Linked DNA regions of Homo sapiens: regions 2 and 3 are each linked to region 1. The links come from fine-mapping of genetic effects on gene expression. A gene starts in region 1. Each other region holds a variant in brackets. All regions are shown on one strand. Distances are from middle to middle. Region 1 holds the start of MYO1D (myosin ID). Region 2 overlaps MYO1D (myosin ID). Region 3 holds the start of LOC124903982 (a long non-coding RNA gene).

Region 1 (8,180 bases):
GGATGGTCTGGATCTCCTGACCTCATGATCCACCTGCCTCGGCCTCCCAAAGTGCTGGGATTACAGGCGTGAGCCACCGCGCCCGGCCTAGGTCAATTTTTAAAAGTAAAAATGGTAGGAGAAAGTTGCATCAATTGTGGCAGTTGTCTAAAAATCAAGCTTTAGCTCCAAGAGGGAAAAAGAAGGCCAGATTAATAGCAAAACAAGAAGATAATTCTAAAAGGACAATGCCACATAAGCTTTTAAAAAAAAAAGTAACAAGCATTTTTCCCTCTCTACAAAAAAATGTTGTCATGAAGGAATGTACTCTGTACCCAGCATTATGCTAGGTGCTGCTGTTGAGAAAACACAGACCCATGAAGCACCTGCAGCCTTGAGTGCTTGACTATTACATGACTTAAAGGAAGGAAGCAGGCCTTGCAGAAGAGCCAGGTGGGAAGGGAGGACAGGACATTCCAGACTGGGGAGTAAGAGCAGGAACTACAGCTTGGGAGGGCAGGAGTCATGAGGTACAAGCACACATGGGAATTTCACTCACACATCCATATATACCAATGGACCAAACACGCTCAATTTCAGCTATATACAACCAGAAATATGTGCCCAACCACCAATATTCCAGGAGACAAAAACACTTCAACATCACAGAACAGCACCTGGATTACGCAGTGGTGGGTTTCTGGTCACCTTCTGCAAAGTGAAAGGAAAGAGAGGACTGTTTTCTGTCTGGGTCAGAATTTATAGTTTCAGAGGAGGGTAAGGGTGCTACCCTTTGCTGGCACTGTGTTTATGGCTACAGGGAACCAACTATTTTAATGTATAAGTAAGTCATGAACAATCACTGATCTGTACAATGAGAACCACAGCCAGTTCTCAGAGTCATCAAGGACACACAGATGAGATACATACAAATACATATACATCTGTACACCCAGGATTTTGAATGATGTGGAGATTGGGTATAAAGGTAGACCTAAAAACCTGGGCCTTAGCCAATGGCCATATGGAGAGCTGGTGATTCCTCCCACCTCTCCACAACACCAACCCCTTCCCTTCCAAACAACTTAACTTATTCACTGTCACCCAGAGTCAGCTTTCATGCCGCCAACCCCTGCTCATGCTGCTTAATCCACCTGGAATGCTCTCCAGCCACGAGTCCACCTTTACAAATCCTACCCATCCTTTGGAACTCAGCTCAACTCCTCTCTTCCTCTATAAGGTGTTTTGGAGTCAACCTAAGGTATCTCTCTCTCTTCTGAACTTCCAGAACAATTTCTATAATTACTTGACAAATAATCACCTAAGCTTTATAAGGCTTTTATCTTCTCTTTCTTTTCCTTTCTTTTTTTCTTTTCTCTCCTTCCTTCCCTTCCTTCCTCTTTATCTGTCTCTGTCTCTCTCTCTCTCTTTGTGTCTCTGTCTCTCTCTGTTTTCTTTCTTCTTTTTCTTCTAAGAGACAGGGTCGTGCTCTATTACACAGGCTGGAGTACAGTGGTGTGATCATAGCTCACGGCAGCTTTGAACTCCTGGGCTCAAGCAATCCTTCTGTCTCAGCCTCCTGATGTTGTTTTCTTGAACTATTCTTTAAATCAATAGAAAATTCCACCTTTCTCCAGGTCTTCATTGAGATGTCACCTCTTCGAGAGGTAAGCAGCACATCTTGTAGTTCTTTGGATACTCCTAGCTTATCTCCTAGAGTACCTTGCACACAGTAGAATTAAATTGCAGCATTCGGCCGGGCATGGTGGCTCACACCTATAATCCTAGTGCTTTGGGAGGCCAAGATGGGAGGATTGCTTGAGGCCAGGAATTCAAGAACAGTCTGCTCAACATAGCAACTCTAAGGGCCCATCTCTAAAAAATATAAATATAAATATAAATAAATTGCAGCATTCTCTTCTGTACACATAGGAGTTGTTAGGCTCACCTTAGTAATCTATTTTGAGATTCAAACTTCACACTTAAGAGACTTAATGCTTTAAAAAAAAAAGCAGAAATTCTAAGTGCCTTCCCTCAATTTACTTTTTAAAAACCACAAGAGTTTTAATTCTATTACAGAGGAGTAGTCCTACAAACTAATGTAGCCCTGTTAGACTCTATGCCTTCAATTTCAAATTCTGAAAATTCTGCAAAAGCTCTGGCTAAGCCCATGTATTTGCTGGAGGTGAAAGATGGAGGTTAAAATGAAAGGCTTCATATTCAACTGTTACTACATGGTCTTGTATACAGTATGTACATAATAAATGTACCAATGTCTGAAAAACTGAAATGATTATAACTGAGAGTGACAAAATTATAAAGGCATTTCTCAAAGCACACAACTTATTTCCTGTGGGGGAGAGGAGTAGAATCTCTTAATTTAAAACAACCTTAATCTATGAAATTGCTATGTAACTTACCCCTTTATCTATTTTATGTGCACTTGGGAAAACTTAAAACAGTTTTACTAATATGGATTTGCCAGGCACTAATCTTTGAAGTATGTATACACATATTATTAATAATTCATTTAACCCTCAGGACAACCCCAATCCTACAGACGGGAAGACTGAGGCACAGAGAGGTTAAGTAACTTGCTCAAAGATCACAGCAAGAATGCAGTGGAACTAGAATTTGAATCTCAACAGTCTGACTCTTAATCACTATGATAATGGGTATTGGTTATAGCTGATGTAGAGGTATATCATTTTGATTAATATTTGGGGTGATTTCTATAAAAGTTGTACATCCAAACCTTGATCAGAAATGTAACATCCTATCATTATGCTGGTATGTAATCAACCTGATTGACCCCTGTCAACTGGATTGACAGGGGTAGTTAATAATGAAATTAGGGTTAAGCACCCAAGCCTAGATTATGACTTTCACTTTATAAGCTTAAGGAATGATGTTTAGCTATAAACCTTAGAAGAAATGCAGCCAAAGCTTGCAGGGAAACATACACACGCACACCAAAACTCAGCTATTTTGAAATTCCACTTACTTTAATGTTTAAGTCAAACTACTTTAAAACTGTTTACATATTACTCTATCAAGGGTGAAATAATCGCATGTAAAGGGCTTTCTAAAACAAATCCACATCTTGGAAGCCCATTTTGGGGCGTTGAGTTGTGACTACGTTCTCAAGGATGTTAATAACACAAGAGCTCCATCCACTAACTCCTTGAAAAAAACCAAAACCATGAACGTCTTGTCAAATTCAGACAGTTTATCTTGGCACTGGCAAGTACAGCAGTCTCTTCGATGTCTGGAAACGTGTCTAATTACGTTTAGAGAGTAACTAAAAAAATAGCCAGTGTCCCGGAACAGACAGCTCAGGGATCACTCCATAGCATCCTGAATGACAGGATGGAACTACGCCAGGAGGAAAAAAAAAAGAAGGGCGAAGAAAGAAAGAAAAGAAGCAAGTGTAAAGCCGGGATGAGACGCCAGCCTCTCTCCAAAATAATCCTCCAGTCCTCCTAGGGCCTTCGGGGCCACCGCAACTCTCGTTCAAGTTATTTCCCTTCAGTTTCCATGAGGTCACCGGCCCGCCCACATCCCTCACCTGGCGCGGGGAAGCGCGCCCTCCCGCGCGGCACACCCTCTGCACCTAAACCCCGGACAGCGCCCAGGGCTCCCCTCTCAGGGAAGCGCGGCCCTTGAGCTCGACACGCCCCCCGCACCCCAAAGCGGCCGCACCCCAGGGGCGTCCGCTCTCGGGAAAGCGCAGCCGCGGAGCTTGGCAGACCCCCGGACACCGCAGCCCGGCCGCGCCTCCATCCCTGGAGCTTGGGCGCTCCCGACACCCCGGATCCGGCCGCGCCCCGAGGCGCCCCCTCTCGGGAAAGCGCAGCCTCGCGCCCCTGCGCGCGGCCGCTCCGCCCTCACCTGAGCCTGAGGTTGGCCATGAACTCGGGCATGGAGACGGTGTCCATCAGCACGAAGTCTGCCTTGCCGAATTCCAGGCTCTCCTGCTCCGCCATGGCGCCAGCGCGGGGGCTCAGGTGGGCGCGCTCGGGCCTCCGGGGCCGCTCCGTGGGCCCGCGATGAGCTCGGGAGGGGCCGGGGCGAGGCCGCGCCGCGAGGCTACGGGGAGGGGGCGCGCACGCCGCTCGGCGGGTCCGGGCCGGACAGAGGCCGCCTCGCTGCTCCTCGGCGCCTTCTCGGCCGGCGCGGCTCCGAACGGGACGCACCCGACAGTTTCCGCTCCTCCCGCCGCGGCTGCCGGGCGCTGTAGGGGCCGGGACACCGAGACGGAGACGGCAGCGGCTGGTCCCGCCTCCAGCCTGGGGCTCGTCCCGGCTCCGCCCCGCCCGGGCCTCCCGGCTCCGCCCCTCCCGGCCCACTGAGGAGCCCGCCCCAGCCGCGGCCCTGGCCGCCGCCTCTTCACCTGGGCGGCGCGCACGCGCGGGTGGGCGGCGGGGACGCGCGCTGGGCCGGGCGGCGGCAGCTGGGTGGCAGCGCCCCCTGGGGACAGGCGCTGGGATCTCAGGCGGCCAAGAGGATGGCCGCCTGCCGCCCACACTTGGTAGCTGCCAACAAAGTTAGAAAAGTAGTTCGTGGAGCTTTTCGCGAGGACAATTCATTATGATTCTGTCACCCTGCTCCAAAACCCACTCCCGCCTCTCTACTCACACCCTGCCCATTCTTGAAGTGGTGGTTCAAGCACAGACTGAGAGGTAATAATAATGGCTAACATTTTTGGGGCACCAAAAATGCCCAGAGCTGTTCTCAGCGCCTTAGAGAACTTTTAAGAAACTTGCCATACGACTAGGAAGTGGAGCAGCTGCGGTTTCACGCAGGTCATTTGACTTAGGAGCCGCAGCGTTCAACCACGTCTGACTACCTCCATTCTTCAGTGGCCCATTTTCTCTTCCACTCATCCGAGCATGTCATCAGACATTACCTTATATGATTATTAAGTTTTTAATATATCTTTGTATCATCTCTCCAGGATTATTGCGGATGTCTTGAGCATGGGACCATTCTTTTTGCATCCACCAAATAACTATTGTACTACTTTGCATATATAAATATGAAATCCATACTGGTTCAGTGGAATGAAGTGAGTTGTAAGTAGTCTCCAATTTATTGATACATTGGTTGAGCTTGGAAAATTCTTTTTGAACTCAATGTATTTTCCCAAAGAAAATATACTACAAATGACTTTCTTTCTTTTTTTTTTTTTTTTCTTTTTCTGGAGACAAATTCTCCCTCTGTCACCCAGGCTGGAGTGCAGTGGTGCAATCACAGCTCACTGCAACCTCAAACTCCTGGGCTCAAGCAATCCTCCAGCCTCAGCCTCCTGAGCAGCTGGGACTACAGGTGTATGACACCATGCCCAGCTATTTTTTTTAAATAAATGACTTTCTAAGGTATCTACATTTATTCAGTCCTGTGTTTCTGTTAGGACATCTTCTATTACAAAATCTACGAGGAAATCTAGAGGCCTCCAAGGACCTGGCTGGGCTTCAACTCTGGCTGAGTTTGAGATGAGTAAACCAGACTGAAGGACCTTGCCCAAGGCCTGCTTCAGCTGCCAGCCACCCACACTTGCTAAGAGAAAGGAAAGGAGCTTTGTCACCTCCTGAGGGACTGCCTCTGCCATCAGAAAACCACCCCAATCCCTGGCACCAGCAGAGCTGGGTTGCATCTGACTACCGTTAGCAGCTGTCCTTCAGAAGGAGGAGATCCACCTGTCTCGATATCAGTGTCCTCATTTGTGGAATAAAAGCTCTGGAATAAGGTAGGACTGTCCTATGGTTGGGTCATTTGTGGAGGTGTCGGTCAGTGGCTAAGTAGGTTATTGCATAGGGTATGGTTGTATTCCTAATGTTTGTATTGGCATGTTTTAACATAAGCAGAACTGAACTTCAAGAAGGAAAGAAAGAAATCTCAAACTGTATGCACTTTGGAGCATCCAGGGACCACACCCCAAAACCTTTTGGTAAATTATATATGTGTGTTCCCTGAGCTCTGTAGGTGTTAAAAATTAGGGCAAAATCCCAGGTACCAGGAAAAGAAACATCACGGCTTGCAGATGATGAGAGAGTTGCAGAAATTGTACAGTGGTTAGGAGCTATGGTGGGATACAATGTGGTTTCCAAATGGCCAAAGTAAGAGATCCTCATTTTAATCAACATCTTATATAGGAACCCAACATATAAAACACATATACAACATATGCAAAGGGTATTTTATTAATTTCTTGTATAAGTCCAAATTAGTATAAAATTAGGCATTGATGCTCTCATGATGAACCCAAATCTGCTCAATGGGGCTCACTATTAGCCTCAGGATTCCAGTTTACTTTTGTATGTTGTTTTCATTGTACTGTGTCAAGCAAATTCTTGTTTGTATAACTAAGCAGTAATTTGTTACCCATACAACTTTACATTCAGCATTTCTAGGCCAATGTGCAGTTACAACATTATTAATCAATGACACACTTGAGCAAAGTTCAGGTATATGCACAGCCGGCAGGAGAGACTGAATACTCTGGTCTGCATTCAGTCAAGGTAACCTAGAGCAGATTAGCTCATTATGAATGTTCTTTGTGATAAAATTTGAATAGAAACACATTTGGAGATGCATGTTTTTGTTACAGTTTAAAATATACAAAAAATAAAACAAATAAAAGTTTATATCCCCAATCATGAGACACACAGACACCATGAGCCTCCTGATATGGTCTCCTGAAAAAGACACATATCATTTACCTGCTAAAAATACGTAAATGGAATCTAATCATGAAGAAGCATCAAACAAACTCACATTAAGGGGCATCCTACAAAACAATTGACCTGTATTCTTCAAAAATATCAATGATGTGAAAGACAAAGAGGCTGAGGCACATCACTATTAAAGGCAATGGGTGATTCTGGACTGGATCTCCAACCAGAAAAATGTAAAGGACATTGTTGGGATAATTGGTGAAATTCAAATATAGACGCGATGTTAGATAGTAGGATAGTATCAATGCTAGTTTTTCTGAACTTGATCATTTTACTGGGATTCTGCAAGATAATGTCCTTGTTTCTAGCAGGTATCTGCTAAAGTATTTAGGAGTAAAATGATGTCTCGAACTGTTTGGCAAGAATAATAAAAATAATAAGATGAGGAGGTGGAAGGAGGGCGTGCATATATATTGGTAGACATATAAATGATTAAAGCAAATGATGCAAAATACTAACAAGTGGTAAAGTCATTAAAAATATATGGGACTTTTGAGGGGATTTTCTTTTGTACTATCCTCACAACTTTTCTGTAACTTTGCAATTAGTTTGAAATTTATTCATTTATTTTGAGACGGAGTCTTGCTCTGCCGCCCAGGCTGAAGTGCAGTGACACGATCTCGGCTCACTGCAACCTCCGCCTCCCGGGTTCAAGCGAGTCTCCTGCCTCAGCCTCCTGAGTAGCTGGGACTACAGGTGCATGCCACCATGCCCAGCTAATTTTTGTATTTTTAGTAGAAACGGGGTTTCACCATGTTGGTCAGGCTGGTCTCAAGCTCCTGACCTCATGATCTGCCCACCTCAGCCTCCCAAAGTGCTGGGATTAGAGGTGTGAGCCACCACACTCGGCCTGAAATTTAAACTTAAAAATTAAATAGTAATCTAAAACTGTGCTAAATAAAAATTTTTAATTTAAAAATATTAAATAACACTTAGAAATCAAAGTCACATCAGAATTTTGCAAACCTTCCAGAACTGAAGAACCAGCAGATATTTTTGAAAACCCTGGTCCAGGGTACCTCTTAGCTCTATTTGGCATAGATGTGCTAGGAGATTATAAACACTGAACAGGTAATTCTAAAAACAAAAATAATTAGATGTCAAATATACCCATATGCCCCTGAGAAGGTGCATCCTGTTCTCTGCCTGAAGTTCTCCCCGCCACCCCACCCCTCACTCCTATGACCTAGCTAACTTCCGCTCATCCCTCCGCTCTCAGTCTCAACATCACTTCCTCCAAGAAGGCTTCCATAATCTCCTGAGTCAGAATTGGCTGTTCCTCCTCTGTGCCTCCTGCAGCATCCTGGAAGTGCTGCCCCCATTACAGTACTAAATGCCCTTGAGCCTACTGTCTGTCTCTCTCACTCGTTTGTAAGGGCCATGAGGGCTGGAAGCTGTCTTTTCTGGTTTTTGATGTAAATGTAATTCTGGCACCTCCTAGCATAGTGCTAAGAGATGAAGTGC
Region 2 (8,180 bases), 61 kb before region 1:
CTCTTGTCATTGATGAGATTAGGAAGCTTTTCTTGGATCTGAGTAAAGATGTGGGGCAATCCTTTTTGAAAGCTGTCATATGCACGTGTTGCCTGAGTTTTCATCTTGAGTTGAGGAGAGCCAGTCTAAAAGGACAAGTCAAAATGCTGAGGAAATGGAAGGCACCTGGGTCCTTGAAAACATAACTGAGCAACTGAATTATCCAACCCAGGACCCATTCTACTACTACACTTCTTGTTATGGGAGAGAAATAACTTTCCTTGTAGTTTGTCACTTTTATTTGGGTTTTTCTATTACTACTTGTAGCCAACACATTCTGCTATAAAAAGAGATAAGCTTGCCTTAATAGGGAAGTTGATAAGTTTAGTTTTGAATTCTGAGTTTGAGTTTACTTTTCCAAATGGAAACAAGATCAAAGGATGGATGAGAGGACAGGAGTGCAGAAATTCAAGAATTGGTACAGAAGGGATATTGAGGGCTACACAGAAGTGGCTGAAGTCATCAGGTATGATTATGACTCAAAATGGCAAACAATTATTCAGTGTTTTTTATGTGCTAGGCACAATTTCAAATGTACTACAAGAATTATCTCTTTTATTCTCACAGTTCTAAGAGTTTCTCTTCCTATTTTACATATGGTAAAAAATGAGGACAAGAGAGGTCTAGTAACTTGCAAAAGGTTACAAAGGTCAGGGGTGATAGAGCCACAGTTCAAACCCAGCAGTCTGACAGCAGAGTAAATGCTCTTAACTCTTTATGTTGTGTTACCTACACTTAAGTTAGAGGAAGTCAGGATGAAACATGAGAGTAATAAGCCTTCCAAGTGAGGGAACTGGAGAGACAAGTAGAGTACCAGGTCAAGGGAAGGAGTACTGACCTTGAGATATAGCCTGTGGGGTTCTGGGTAGGACAACGGAGAGGACTGCAGAAGTTCCAGCAGACACTGGGCACCAACTTCACCTGCTGCACAGTTTTGCTTAGAAACAGCAGCATGTTATAACACATTCAGCTTCCTTGCCTTAACAAAGCACTAAGTCACTTACAAATAGGAAAATAATATTTATTGAGTACCTACAAAATGCCAAGCACTAGACTAGGTAGAGACTTTATATGTATAGGCCATTTAATTCTCACAATCACCTTAACCATAATGGCGACATTAACTTTTCATGAACAATTTTGCCAAGCAAATATAACTTATACACATGGAGTCATCCACACCCATCATCCAATCCATTGGCAAATCTTGTTAGTTCAATCTTCAACAACTATCCAGCATTCAATCATTTCTCCTATAAACGGTCTTCACTGATGATTTCCCAATATGTGAAAAGATACTCTGGCACTGACTTCAGTCTCTTCTTTATTATATCCTCAAATATCACTCTACAGACAAGTCTGAAAAAAGACTAGGTTCTTACACAACCTATTACTCATTCATCTAACAAATATTTTTTGTGCTAAGCAATACGCCAAGGGCTTAGATACAATGGTGATCAACATAACTATGGTCTGTGTTCCTCCAGACAGCCCAGTAGGGGATGCAGACAAGTAAAAGGAAAATGTAACAAAGGAGCTATTAGAGGAAATGCAGGGAGATATATTACAGTACAAATGAAAGGCAGTTAACCCAGACCTCAAGGACCGAGAAGGTGATCCCAGAAGTAACATCTAAGTTGAAAACTAAAGAATGGGTAGGAATTATTGAGGCGATGGGGTGGAGGAGGAGGAGTGGGAAAGAGTAGTGTGCCACATGGAGATCTCAGCAGGAACAGAGGCTGAGAGGCTTCAGAAAGAAAAAAGCATGTTTAAAGGATGGAAAGAAGTTCAGTAAGCCTGGAGCACAAGGCACAGAAAGGACAGTAACAGTAAAGGAAAGGAAAACTAGAGAAAAGAGAGGAGAATTAATTGCTGATGATGCAAGGGCCTTCCAAGTCATGTTAAGAAGTTCTGGCTACAGCATGGAAGTCTTAAGACTGGAGCTATGGAGACCAGTTAAGAGACAGCTGCGTCCATGGGATGCTTGATAGAAACCTACACTAGAGCATGGTGGTAGTCACACTCAAAAGATATTTAGGAGACTCAATTGACCTCATCTGGTGATTGATCAGATGGGAGTGGAGATGGTGAGGACAGACATGAATCAAGAATAACTAGATTTCTGCCATGGGCATTAGGTGGAAGGTTTAATACAAACTAGCTTTCACATGTTGGTAACTTTCTCGAGGCAGCAACACTTTTTAGAAAAGTGACCTGCCAGAGTTCAGGTCAGCCATCTAAAAAACACTTCTTGCCAGGAGTGGTGGCTCATGTCTGTAATCCCAGCACTCTGGGAGGCCGAGGTGGGCAGATCATGAGGTCAAGAGATCGAGACCATCCTGGTCAACATGGTAAAACCCTGTCTCCACTAAAATTACAAAAAATAGCTGGGTGTGGTGGTGTGCACCTGTAGTCCCAGCTACTCGGAAGGCTGAGGCAGGAGAATCACCTGAACCCGGGAGGCGGAGGTTGCAGTGAGCTGAGATCCCACAACTGCACTCCAGCCTGGCGACAGAGCAAGACTCCGTCTCAAGAAAACAAAAACAAAAACAAAAAACACTTCTGTGTTAACATTCTAAATTTATCCCTTCTTTTTTTCCTACTGCACTTATAAATAAGAGTAAATGCTCAATGAATTTGTAAGCACAGAAACCATATAAATGACCTTATAAAACGGTGTGAGAGGAAGAAGGATAATGAAGGGCCTCCTTAATCAGAGTAGCCATTTGTTGGCTGTTAAAAGAAGAGACATATAATTTGGAGTAATGAAAGCAAGAGAAAGAATTAGCAGACTGTTTTAAATGAAAACATGTCTCTTCTAAGCACGATGCATTACAAATAAGACAAATTAATCATTGTTGAAAATTTAAATATTCACACTGGAATTGCTGTATCATCTATTAGAAGTTGCCTAGAATAATGCTAATTGCAATTACAGATAAACTCCAAACTTTCAGTGGCTTTACACAAGAAGTTGATTTATTACCCATACATTAGTCCAATACAAACGTTTCTGTGGGGAGGGAGTAGGCCTTTGCTCCATGCAACTGTTCAGTGACATGTCCGACAAAAACGCTTCCATCTTCAACACATGACTTCAAGTTACGCTGCGCATCAACAGCCAGCCAACAAAAGTGGCAGAGAATGGAGAATCACTTGCGGGAGGCTTTTATGAGTTAGACCTAGAAGTGTCTAGACCTCAGAAATTCCACCAATGAGTACTCTGTCACATGACACGTAACTGCAAGGGAGGATGTGCCTCCAAAGAACAGGAAACACATTTTGCTGAATAATTAGCAGTCTGTTATGGATGGTAAAATACTGAAGACAAGATATATGACTTACT[C/A]ACCTTTGCAGAGCTTAACAATATCTTGAAGAAAATAGGCGCTCAAGGCTCAAATATAATTCTGTTGAAAAAATACTTAATGAAAAAATTATCTCATAAGAGATCCATTTTGCTACATAAACTACTGCTAAAATACATAAACTGTAGGAAAAAAGATTTTCCAGCTCTTGACTTATAGAAGTTGCCCATTTCAACCTGGATTTTCCTTATTTACCAGGAAGACACCAAAAATATTGTGGTAGAAGAAATCATTCCAAACTTGTGGCTCAAGAATTGTGAGAACTATCTCTAAAGTATGGAAAAATATCAATGATAATGACTTAAATATTTTAAATTTTCATGTTAGTTCTTATTCTCTTAACTTTTTTAAAAGCATAGTTATTATGCTTAAGTCCAATCCTGGTCAGGCAGCCCTCTTCCCTCTCGTAGATTTGCCAATGAGAACAGGAGGCCTAAAGAGCACACGCTTTGGCAAAAGAAACAAACAAGAAAGCATGCTGGCTCTGAATTCCCTTGGCCTCAAAGTGACACATCACTCTGTGCAGAGTTCATTGGCCAATACCACAGGTTAGTCCTGTGGTCCCCACCTAACTGCAAGCTAGGTAGGAAATGTTGAGAAGGACAAGGTAAGTGATTACCGTCTCTGCCACACCTGTATAGACCACAAGCCCCAGTTTCTAGGTACATTTTCCTATGTAAATTTCGGGGTTGTATTCTCTCATACAAATTAGTTTCTTGTAAGTTTGTTTACTAGTATCAATAACTGAGAATCAAGAGGATAAAATTAAACTTCTGGGCTTATAAACAAATCCTTTATCCATGGTAACCTAGTAGCAACTAACTGATCTGAAAACCAGTGGGAAGTAGCCAGTTGATTCTTCTCAATATCTCTCAGCTACAATATCCTAAACAAGGAATCCATTCATCTATCAGTCAATAAATATTTATTGAGAATGTCTGTGGGTCTAGTGTGATGTTTAACACTGCATTAAGCGTCTGGGAGTGAAAAGGGCACATTTGGTTCCTGCCCTGATCAAACTTAGAGTCAAGTGAGGAACACAGTTTTAAAAAATTATCAACAATCATATTATTACAATCCAGACAAACAAGAGATATAGGAAGAGGTCACAGTGCTAACACTGTATTAAACATGAGACCTGACCAGGTTAGGAAAGGCTTCACTGAGACAAACGCAGGGCCCAGAAGGATACATAAGGGTTAGGCAGCTAAAGAGAGAAGGTTAATGTCCTAGACCAAGGGAAAGGTTGGAAACTTAGTCCAATGTTATTTACTTTTCGTCTTAAACTTTGAAATCATTTTAATAATTATTTTGGTTTCTCTCCACCTGATTGCTGTAGTACTATTAAAACTGAATTTTAAATAATTCTGTTTGATTCTAAACAGTCAAGTTTGCAATAGATTGCCATGTTTTAACAATATCTTCAAATTCTAGGCAAGGGAAAAAACATTTGCATATAATTTTTCTCTAAACATATTTATACTATGTATTTACAATTAGTAAATCCTGAGTTACTTCATTGTTTTTATATTAAGTGGTCTAAATCTAATAAATGGATGCACTCACCTCAACTGCAGATATTATGAAAAATTCCTGGATGTAGCATAAGTATGAGTTTAAAATTCAACATCAAAACCTTAATCCATTTTCATCACACACACAGGATTTAGTCTTTCTTCCAATATAATACAGTCCCTTTTTGAATTTTTTTAAATAATAAAAAAATTAGTGTTTTTAACTAAAGAAAAAGATGACAAGCGGTAAGAAATGCCACAGAATAAAAAGTTTTTGGTGAGGAAAAATTATGTAACTTAGGCAAGTAACTACTTGTACCTCAAATTTCTATTTAATGAGGTACTAGATGTATTGCTATAAATAAAATAAAAATAGTAATTATCTGCTAGCTACTTCACAGTGATTTTTAAATTTTTTTGTAGATACAGGGTCATGATATGTTGCCCAGGTTGGTCTTGAACTCCTGGCCTCAAGTGATTCTCCCACCTCGGCCTCTCAAAGTGTTAGGATTATAGGCATGAGCCACCATGCCTGGCTAACAGTAATGTTACAAGAATACATTAGCAATCTACAAATTTTATGCATTTCTAAAAAGATATGAAGACTGAAGACTGAAGACTGAAGCTTCTTTATGTTGCTGAGTAACAGGAAAACAACCACCAGATTATTTAATGGTTTAGCAACAAAAAACTTGGAACAAGAACATATTTGTACCTCTCTTAATTACAGTAATAAAATGCATATACATTCTATGCCTTTTGAAGGTAATATTTTACACTCATAAAATGACTGCAGTTTAAAAACTGGTTTTGTCAGCTAAACACAGGAGTTACCATTTTCAAGGAAAGTAATCCTTCCCAGCTATAAAAGCCTATACATTTATGACTTGTTTTCAGTTCAAAAACTCAAAATTAACCAAAATAAAAGGATCCAGTAGAGGTTGATGTTCCTCTTTCTTTGCTTTTTCTCTAAACTGTTTTCAAGTAGTATAGTAATAGCCAACACTCACTGAGCGTTACCATGCCAGGCACTGAGCTAAGTGGTTTACGTGCATTATCACATTTAATCTTCACAACAACCCTATATGGTATGCACTTTTAAAGAAATATCTTACTTTCCAGATAAAGAAATGGAGACTTTAAGAGGTAGTAGGGGCCGGGCGCGGTGGCTCACGCCTGTAATCCCAGCACTTTGGGAGGCCGAGGCGGGCGGATCACGAGGTCAGGAGATCGAGACCATCCCGGCTAAAACGGTGAAACCCCGTCTCTACTAAAAATACAAAAAATTAGCCGGGCGTAGTGGCGGGCGCCTGTAGTCCCAGCTACTTGGGAGGCTGAGGCAGGAGAATGGCGTGAACCCGGGAGGCGGAGCTTGCAGTGAGCCGAGATCCCGCCACTGCACTCCAGCCTGGGCGACAGAGCGAGACTCCGTCTCAAAAAAAAAAAAAAAAAAAAGAGGTAGTAGGTTCTTGCCCTACAAGTATTGTGAAAGAGTTGAGATTCACCTAAGCAGTCTACTTCTAGAGCCAGTGCTTTTAACCACACCTCTATCCTGCAAATAGTCTGTAAACAAGTCTTAGTGATGCTTCTGTTCAAACTGTGGATCGCTGCTGCCCCTGCAGTCTCTGACCATTCTTCCCAGCAATGCTGAGCTGTGGTCCCATGTGAAGGCCTCATTATGGAAGGAGGGTTGGCTAAGTATCCAATAGTAGCTCCAGCCCAGTGGGAAGGTACCACCACTTGAGATGACACTGCAACGGAGGCAGATGCTCGATGGACACATTCAAGACCCATTCGGCTCAAGGATCAAAAAAATGGGGCTTGCAAGTTCCCATTCTTCTTTTCTAGAAGAGCTGCTGAGAGAGAGACCAATGGGGGAAATAAAGTGAAAGCCTCACTCTTCTCTAGCCTAAGTTTTAGAGTCCAGTGAAGCATTGCAGCATAGGCTTTGTAGTCAGAAAACCCTGAGATCAAATCCTGGTTCTACCACTTGCTATAGCGATCTTGGGCAAGGGGTCAGATCTCTCTAAGCCTGTTTCCTCATCTGTAAGGAAGGGTATTATATCACATAAGGTTACTGTGAGGACTAAATTAGACTAAGTATGCAATAGGATACCAGGGTCCAGTTTTCTTTGGATGTAATGGGCCTGGAAAATTCCTTAAAATCCTTTTCACCTACAAAATCTTATGAAGTTCTGCCTCATTTTCTGCTTAAAAACTTTAAAAAATTAATAGAAATAAAAGAGAATTCTACTAGAGAGATAGGTTGACGTTACTTCTTCCTTGCTTTTTCCTTAAAGTGGAATGTTAAAAACTAGGATATGCCTGGAAAGTGTTCTATCTACAAAAAAGGAAGTTAGCAGCCGCTGAAAAGTAACTACAGATGGCTATTCACTTTACTCTGAAAGCATTTGCTGTTGATATAATCACACCACAGGAAAACATCATAATGTTGGCTGAAAGAAATCTGAAATGACACAGCAATAATGCTTCATCATGTAGAAGTTGGTTTCAAGTTTTTTTTTTTTTTTCGGTCTGGATAGTGTGATTGCAAGAAGGGAGGCTATGCTAGCTTGGTTATAAGCAGGGAAGTTGGCTGTGAGGAGATAAACAGAGATCTCACAGGAATTCTGGGGTAGAAATCACTGGACCGGAACTGAAGGGCTATCTCCCAGCTTCTGCTTCTGCCTTTTCATTCAGTCCATTCCCCTCCGTTTACTCAACAGTTCCCTCTGCTTTGGTGGCAGTTTCTGCTCCTTCTCAAGGCTGACTTGCACATGGCTCTGACTTGCTGTGGCCTCCTCTCCATCATTCTCTGCATCAGGTGCTTTCAACCTTGATTTTATTGTTTATATATACTTATGAACTTTTCTGCAGGGAATGTCCATACTTTCATCAGATGCTTCAGGAAAGCAATGACCCCAAAAAGGAATAAAAACCACTGTTCTATCTCATGACACTCTACCTTTAGTTTCTACTAGTAACTCTTTTAGTTATTCAGTTTCTTAATTCCAAATTCCTACCAGAATAATAATAATGGCTACCATTTATGAAGCTTTGAGTATGAGCCAGATACTGTTCTAAGGACTTAACTATTTTTAATTCTCAAAACCACATTATATAGGATCTAATATTACAGAGAAGGAAACTGAGGCATAGTGAACTTTGGGTAACCTGCTTAAGGTTACACAACTAGCAAGTGGCTAAGTCGGAATTTCAATCTAGACAACATGCATAGTACTTAAAACTGACTGAGTTAAAC
Region 3 (8,180 bases), 380 kb before region 1:
AGAGGGGCCTCTGGCTGCCTGGCCCAGGGAGGAATTGGGGTTTCTGGTTGGAGGCCCTTTTCTGGCTCCTGTGTGGAGTTATTCACTCTCCCAGAGGCTCCTGGAGCCAGCCACCCTAACTGAGCTGCCAGTGGGGTCGTGAGGCAAGATCCCCGCCACCCGGGGACATCTTCAATCTAGGCGAGGCGAAGCTGAGCGGGTCTAGTGGAAAGATTGTGTCTGGTCGTTTGACCACACACCGCCCTGATTTGCTGTTTTCTTTTTTTAGGGAGAAGGGCTTTTCTTTAGTGGAGAAATGGAACTCGCCCCCCTACCCCCTTGTCTGCTGCTCCCAGCCACGTTGGTGGTATTGGCCGATGAGCTGGTTTGACTCATTAATTTCTCTCAATTTGGGTCCCAGCTAAAGAGGTGGGGTGAAGCTGGGGACAGCTTTCCTGGGTGAGTTTTTCTTTTGAATAATGTAGTGCAGTCACCCTGTGGCAAATGCCAGGACAGCTGCAGGTGCCCATTAGCAACGCCTGCCTTCTGGGCAAGGTGAGGGATGCCATACCTTGAGACCAAGCCGGTGCCCACCTAAGGGCTAAGGCCTCTTGCTGGTGCACATGACATTTGTCCTGCAGAGCTGGGGGGAAGGCGATGTGGTGACCCCACCCCCACCCGTTAATTTAAAGCTGTTTCTAAACAGTTGAGTTTCTTCTAAAGAGGAAGCCTTGCCCAGCAAGGACCAGTGAGACAGCCGGATCTTGGAGACAATTACAAGACGGGGAGTGAGACTCCTGATTGCTCTGGAAGCCTGCTGATTTCTACAACTGATCATTTGCAGCTGCTGGTTTTGGTTTCCACCTTACCCTACTGGCTGTAAAAACACAAATGTGTACTTTATTGATTTTCTTTCTAATTCTCCCGCATTGGTGGCTTGGGACTTGGGAGAGGGAGCAAGCCTTCCTCCATGGCCCATCACTCGGCTGTGGAGAACAAAGACCAATGTGAAGACACTACAGAGGATTCTGTCTTCCAGGCCCAGTCCACTGGGGAGTGCTGGAATGGGGACCTGGGGTGGGGAGGCAGAGGGTCACTTTACATAGGATTAAGTTCGAGGTGGCTACCGATTTCAGCACATGCACTACTGAAATTTACACAAAAAGAAAGCTGTGAAATTGAAGTCCCAATTTAAGAGTCCTGAGGCAGAACCTGGTGGCTGGAGGCATTCCCAGAGGTGGGGAAGAGAGCCTGCCCGGCCGGAGAACATCTGCCTTGCTGCACCTGAGGCCCAGCAGAGCCGTTCCTGGGACTGTCAGATAATCGGTGCAGCGGTGGAAGGAGCCTGCGGCTGCTGGCACAGACTTCACACAGCACCTCCTCTCTGCTGGGTTTCCACACAGCCTGTCTTCAGATCCTGCTGCCGCGTGCGACCAGAGGTGGGAGGCCCCTGGTGGCATGGAAGAGGGAGGGTCAGTGCCAAGTCTCAGGAGGAGGGCGCATGTGTGTATCACCCTCAGCTGGCGGAACCTGGCTGCGAACTGTGCAGTTACGTTGCATCCACAGGATTCCAGTTGCGTGTCTGTTTCCTTCTCTTTCTCCGTATTTATTTTTTTATTCTTCGGAGGAGGTGGACATTTCGGAAGTGGTGGGGACTAAGGGAAGAACTCTCTAGTTCCCTCAGTGTGAAGCCTGTCGTGTTCTCTCCCCTTGCACTGGTCATCAGTATTGTGTAAAGGAACAACTGATATACTTGAGTGTGCAAGCAAAGAACCCATTTGCCATGCTGCTATGAAGACTACTTTTAGATCAACAATAAAAAAAAACCTACAAAAAAACCTTTATTCTTTAATTGTTGCTTTTACGGTGATATTGTGCATGCAAACCAGGAGCATTTTGTGTCTTAAGAAAAATAATCTTAGAACAGATGGCTGTGAAAATTACACCCATGCACAGAACAAGCCACAGGAATAATAGTTCAGGATTTGGTTTTTCTCTTTTTCTTGTAAACCTGGAGGGTTGATATATTCTTTCCATGCAGTTATTAGAACTTAGTTTTGTTCCAACAGTTAAACTTGCAATGAAAAGAAAATGTGCCATTTTTTTCACTCAGAATTATTCATAGCTGTATATTTGAAACTGCTAATTACACACGTGTGATGTATGTTGGTTTTTTAGTGCAATTTCTTCTGTAGCTATTCTTTGACCAAACTGTGGGTATTGTTAATATTAATTTATATTTGTCTCATTTTGTATGTATGTGTAGTGTGTTTGTGAGTATGTGTGGTTTATAATCTGACAAAGTCATGAAGCTCAGTTTGGCTGTAATTTAATTCCCCTTCCCTTATTTTTATTTATTTTTGTACTGTGCTGATTCAATAAAATGCACTGACCATCCATTACAGAGACCTCTTTTTGTGGGCAGGCTGGGGCCCCCTTTACTAAATGATTCATGCACTCAGAACATAATTGGATTTGTGTTATTGGGGAGGGGAGGACAGAGTTGGGGGCGAGGGCTTAACACACTAAGGTGATTAAGAAGGAAGCACAGGTTAAGTCAGCTTTGGTTTAGCGTCGGCCGAGGTGAGGGCAGCTGTTTCCCAAAGGCTCCCGTGGCAGAGCTGGGTGACTGGAACCTCCGGCCAAGGAGGGTCAGGCCCAAGCATGGCCTGGTGAGGTCTGGCCGGGTGGGTCCTGCAGGGGCTCTGGACCCTAGACTCCCTGTGTCGAGGTGTGACTCTGAAGCTGCTGCTCCCACGTATTCTTGGGCTTGGCTCTGCTCTGTGCTCCCTTCCCCCGGGGTCTCCCAGGCCAGCAGGGGTGGGCTGGCGTCCACATGGGCCAACCCTGCAGGTTTAGCTCCATGCGGGTTTCCAGGAGGGAGAAATCCAGCCCTGTGGCTCCCAGGGAAGCAGCCACTCCAGCCCATAATTGCGGCAAGGGTGGGGTTCCTACCAGCTCTATCTGTACCTGTCCTGACTGCCAGCCTGAGGCCTGCACGTGCCACCAGCGTCAGCCTCAGGAAGAGGGTTATGGGGATGCTGGATGTGGCCCTCCCCAGGCCCTGCACCCTGCGGTCTGAAGCTGCTCCTGAGTACTAGGAAAGTCTTTCTTGTCCTCAAGTTGTAGCTTGGGAGCTGTCAGCCTTGTGATCAAGGCCACTTGCTTTCCACAAAGCAACTGCCTTCGTCTGAGTTACAGAAGCCACCGCTGCGTGTTCTTTTCTGCCAATGACCAGTGACCGGAAGCACCCTGGCTGCAGGACCCTTGGGTGCTGGCCATGCCCTGTTGCTCCCTCAGGGCCTTGCTCCCTTCCCCAGGAGGAGCTGCTGCTTCCTCTCACTCTCCCTGCCGCCCCCACACTTCCTCCCAGCACCTTTCACTCCGCTGGCCTGGCCTGTCCCCAGTCTGCTGCTGTAGGTCTCTGAGCCTTTCCTTTCTACATACGTGCTTCTATTGCAGTAAACATATTCCCTGGCACTAAGCAGTGTGCTTCCAGCTGCCAGCGCACAGGCCTCAAGATGGCAGGAGAAAGTGCTGGGACTCAACCCCACGGCCTCCTTCCCTCCTCACACCTCCGGTCCACAGCTTGCTTCTTGCTCACTTTTTGTTCAAAAGCCTCAGGCAAATCATCCTCCATTTTACATGATTTGTGCTTAATTCTCCCTTCTATCCTCCCAGATAATGGTTGACTTTATTTAAGCAAAAATTTCACCAAGTTTTCAGTGACAGATAAGCAGAACACCTTTAAAAATAAGATTTAATGCTTTATTGCTCTTGATGGCAAATCAAAATATGCTTTAGAAATAAAGTTAATTTACTGGAAAATAGGAGTTTTTGCACCAAACCATAAAATTGCATTTCATTACATCAAGAGAACCCCCTCATTGTCTACAATCATGCCCGCTTCCTTTCCCCTCAGCGCCCGGGACACGTGACCGAGATCATACCCTAAATTCCTGATCCTTTTGCAGTTGCCACATACTGTGGCTTTTAGTACATCATAAAAAAGTGCTTGTCCTGTGGCCTCAGCTGGGAGGCCCTGGCGCTGGGGCTAAGGGGCCCAAGGCACCATCCAAAGGCTGGGAGGAAAGAACCCAAACCCAGGCCCTCCTCCTGCCCTCCAGCCTTTGACAGGCAACTCATTTGGCATGATCTGTTTTGGTGTGTTTAAAACATACATTTGCATGTGTCTAGTGTAAAGCAACAAGTTTGAGGAAATAAGTGGAAGGAGAGAGGAAGTTCCAGTTAGATGGTTCCACTAGTGTCTACTGGTAATTGGCAAAACTATGAGTGTTGCTAATCTGGGCTGAGGGCACCTCTGCCTGTGCAGGCAGCTGACCAGGCTTGGAGAATGAGAAAGGGTTCCCAAGGACAGGATGCCAGCGGGATTCTTTGTTGCAAACTGCACACAGTGCAATTTTTGGGAAGCAGGGATGGGGAGTGGGCATGAGACCGGGTTGTTGGGACCACTCTGGGGTCAGGCCCTGGGTGAGGCACAGGAGGCTGCACACAGGCACTTGGTGGGTTCTGCCGGGTCAGGGTGGGAAGGCAGGAGAAGTGTCTGTGGCAGGACGGGAAGAAGCTTCAGTACATCCCTCTCTTGCACCTCTGCCCACTCCACCTGAGGCGT[T/G]GGCTCCCTCCCCCTCATCCTCTCACCACATGCCTGAGGCGTAGGCTCCCCTCATCCTCTCACCGCATGGGGCATTTGCTCCCAGCCTCTACTTCCCTCAAGGCCTTCTCAGCAGCTGGGGCTCAGTGGGGAAGGTGGTCTCAGAAGGCCCCTGAAGCATACGTGCTTTTGCTGGGCAGAAACTGGCAAGCTGGCAGTGCTCCCTGGCACCAGTTTCACGGGCGCAGGCCCCAAGGGGCCGTGTAGAGGGCGGGGTGGGCATCCTGGCCTGGCCTGCAGTGCCAGGACCCCACGCTGTGCTGCTGCCCCGCTTCCTGCTTCCCGTCATCCCGTGTCTTGACCCCGCCCTTGCTGTTTCTCTGAGTAGGAAACGCAGCGGGAGGTGGTCCAGAGGGAAAGCGGCCGACCCTGAGGGCTGCCCTCACCCTGGCAGCTCCCCGTTCTCATTAGGGTTCCTGACCCAAGTGTGGTGACAGCAGGTATCTGATTAGCAACCCTGCAAACGGTGAAAGTATCTATAAGAGGACCACAGCCACAGGCTGCGAGTTAAGTAAGATGATCCTTGGAGCATGCCACACTGTCCTCTCCAGAGCGGTGGTCAGAGGCCCTGGTGGGGGCCTTGGTGGCAAAGGGAGTCTCCCAGGGGAGAACCTGGGAAGGATGGACTCACTCTGCTGGATGGGCTGTTCCGCTCCTGCCACTGGCTCCTGGCTGAGGGGCTGGCCCTGTGGGTGACTCTGCTCACCCAGTGGCTTTGGCTGGCGGCTGGGAGTTGGGTTGGGGTGGGTCCGCCGAACTCTGAGCAGAGCCTCCCTGAGCTGGGTCCCCAGGGCTGGCTCACCTTGGGCAAGAGAGGTGGCTATGGGGCTCCCGCAGAGTGGGGTCCTGCATCCCCACCCCTTCCCTCTGCAGGGTCAGCAGCAGGGAGGACACCTGTCCAGGTGCTCTGACTTGACCTGGCCACGGGGCATCCGCACCAACTAAAGGCACCATCCAGTTGCCTCTGGGGTGAGATTGGTCTGGACGTCAGCCCAGGGGTCTGGGCGGGGCACCAGGGTCTTTGGCTTATTGAACAGGGACCGTGGACAGTAAGGACAGAGGAAGATGATACCAAAGGCAGAAAACCAGGAAGGAAATCTTACAGGGGCGGGGCTCCTCTGGGAGGGGCCCTCGCAGCAGGTTTCTAGCGGGCATGGGTTGGGAGGCAGCAGCTGGACTGGGACCCAGGACTCGGAGTGTGGCCGGGCTCCGGGCCAGGCCTCCGCGGGGCGTCAGTTCCCGGGCACGCTGAGGATGAAGCCCGAGCGATTCTTGGTGAAGTCGGGCTGGGGCTGGTTGAGCCGCGTCTCCACGGAGACGGTGCACTTCTTCCCGTGCAGGCTGCACTGTACTGGGTTGGTGACGTTCACTTGAAGGTGGCGCTTCTCACTGCAGGAACCAAAAACACCAGACGGGCAGTTAGCAGGCAGCATGAGAACAGGGCACCTGCCCGGCAGCTCCCGGCCACCATTGGCTCCGGCGCAGCCTGCTTCCTCCACAAGTGCCAGGAGGATGCCTGAAGGGCCCCAGAGAGGCCGAGGCAAGGCGAGTGTGGCACTAGCTGGGCCTCCAACCACAGCCTCGGCACCATGGCAGGGCCCTTGGCTCCCATGCCAGCGCATGGGACTGGACAGTGGAGGGCCATGTGGTTGAACAGACGCCACCAGGTCTCTGGCTGGGGCTGAGGACCAAGCCCCTGGGTCCTTCGGTGTACCAGGGCTGGGGTTCTGACTCTGACACTAATCCATCCTGCGGGAGACCCGTGCCACATGCCCCAGTGAGAGAGAGAGAGAGAGATGTCTCCTGCTCCTGGCTGGTCCCTGCCTGTCACACCCCGGCTGGTGGAAGTGGGCCTGACTTGGGTTTCCCCAAGCGAGAGGCTGCTCTCATCTGGAGCTGGGCCGCTTGGCTGGTTGCCACCCTGGAGGCTGCAGAACAGTGCAGCCGGTGCCCCACCGGGGGCTGCAGGGAACCCTGTGCAGCAGGAAGCCCCGCTGGCCTGGGAGCACATGAAGGCGGCTTCAGCCGGGCGTCCGGCCGGGCTCCAGGTCGGGTGCAGAGGCGGAAGCTGTGCTCTTCCTGCTGGACAGAGCCCGAGCCCGAGCCCTTCCTCCAGCTCCTCACACGACGCTGAACATGCTAAGAAGCTGCTGCTGGTTTTAAAAGCAGAGACACTTGTCGCGATAGGCTGGCACCCCAATGTTTGCTCACACAGGCAGCACAATCCCACGCTGTACCTCAGCTTGTGCCTTGTCAGCTCTGAGCTGGGAGGGGAGAGGAGAAAGGAGGAAGCCTCCTGACCTCGGAGCCTCCAGTCAGGACTGGCTGGCTCTGCTCCGTATGCCGAAAGCCCTGGGAATTTTTCACTGCTCTCGGGATGGCGTCTGGGGCGTGGGCAGGTTGGTCCCGCTTTGAACGCTCTGCTGGACTTACGGAGCTGCTCTTAGTGCTGGGCAGTGAACGCCAAGCTGTCGTGTCCACACGGCCAGGGGAACGCCAGGGCCAAGGCCAGCATGCGCTGAGCTTCTGCCCAGCCTGGAGTCGCCTTCACCAGGCCATGAGCACGTGAGGCACTTTCTAAGCACTGGTTGCCCGGGAGGCGCAACTGCTCAGACGCCGAGGCAGCTCAAAGGGCTCCGACGTGCGGTGGCTCCACGGGGTCAGCGTGCCCAGAGTAATGGGTGTCACTAGAGCACCTGGCCCAGCACACGCTTTCTGAGGACACCTGGTGGGCGCGCCCCACAGCAGGCCCCAAAGTTTCAGAGGTAAGTGCGGGGTGCTCAGGGGCTCTCCTCATGGCTGTCTCCCCCCTGCTTTCTCACGGACACAGGAAGAGACCCCGGTTGTCACTTGTGGGCATTACGTATCTAATACTTAATGTCTTGTCAGCTGCAGCTAAAACCTGAGCTTAGACAGCTATTTTTAACCAGACTTGGACATAAAAATAGCAGAGCCCAGCAGAGGCCGTGACTCAGGCCCTCTTCTACTCTTGTGGGCACCAGGGCCGCTCTGCAGGGCTCATGTGCAGCCCTTGGCGGCGGGGTCCAGGTGGGGCCCCTGCAGCCCTCGTGCTGGACCAGATGCCTCCAGGACCAGGCTGGTCCCTGAGCTGGGGTGGCCTCCCTGCCTCCCCTCTGTCAACCTGGTATGGCGTTGGGTCCCTCTCACTGGACTCTTGTCCTCTGGGAGCCTCCCTCCTGACCCTGGCAGCGGCCTCCCCCTGCTCGCCCTCCTGGAGGGCCTGTGCCCTTCCCTGTGCAGGGAGTCCAGACTCTGCCCTCGCCCTTCCCTGGGGAACTGCATGTACACAGTGGGTTCCAGAATCACCTGGTGACTCAGTCTGAGGGAATGGGCTCTAAACAGGCCACGCTCCACGTCAGCTCAAAAAAATTAAGAGACAGAAAATGGGAACCATTAGTTCACCCTCACCCTCTCGTGTTCAGACAATCGGGGCATGCTCCTCCGTGCAGGGCTCTCCTGACTCCCGCTCAGCAGGGTGGCCCCTGCCTCCACCCTCCCTGCTTCCTCT

The links. PIP is the estimated chance that this variant, and not a neighbour inherited with it, causes the effect. A credible set is the group of variants that fine-mapping cannot tell apart.
Region 2: its variant is the best candidate, but not a certain one, in a credible set for the expression of MYO1D in whole blood (TOPMed, PIP 0.86).
Region 3: its variant is the best candidate, but not a certain one, in a credible set for the expression of MYO1D in tibial artery (GTEx, PIP 0.60).

Annotation. Positions count from the first base shown.
Region 1 is chr17:32,872,908-32,881,087 of GRCh38, forward strand. It overlaps MYO1D (myosin ID), which reads right to left and starts at 4,217. Exons shown (of 22, transcript NM_015194.3): 1 at 3,871-4,217. The coding sequence starts at 3,965. MYO1D-DT (MYO1D divergent transcript) reads left to right here and starts at 3,948. Exons shown (of 4, transcript NR_184086.1): 1 at 3,948-3,986; 2 at 4,937-5,054; 3 at 5,393-5,728. RefSeq lists silencers at 3,553-4,542, 3,749-3,936.
Region 2 is chr17:32,811,773-32,819,952 of GRCh38, forward strand. All of the region lies in intron 1 of MYO1D (myosin ID), which reads right to left. Among named protein-coding and RNA genes, the nearest start is that of MYO1D-DT, 61 kb to the right of the region's middle. The variant C/A (reference allele first, on the strand shown) is at 3,386.
Region 3 is chr17:32,488,876-32,497,055 of GRCh38, forward strand. CDK5R1 (cyclin dependent kinase 5 regulatory subunit 1) reads left to right here. Exons shown (of 2, transcript NM_003885.3): 2 at 1-2,378. It overlaps MYO1D (myosin ID), which reads right to left. Exons shown (of 22, transcript NM_015194.3): 22 at 3,647-6,040. The coding sequence ends at 5,884. LOC124903982 (a long non-coding RNA gene) reads left to right here and starts at 6,573. Exons shown (of 2, transcript XR_007065716.1): 1 at 6,573-7,416. RefSeq lists silencers at 1,407-1,528, 4,252-4,301 and an enhancer at 2,557-2,676. The variant T/G (reference allele first, on the strand shown) is at 4,613.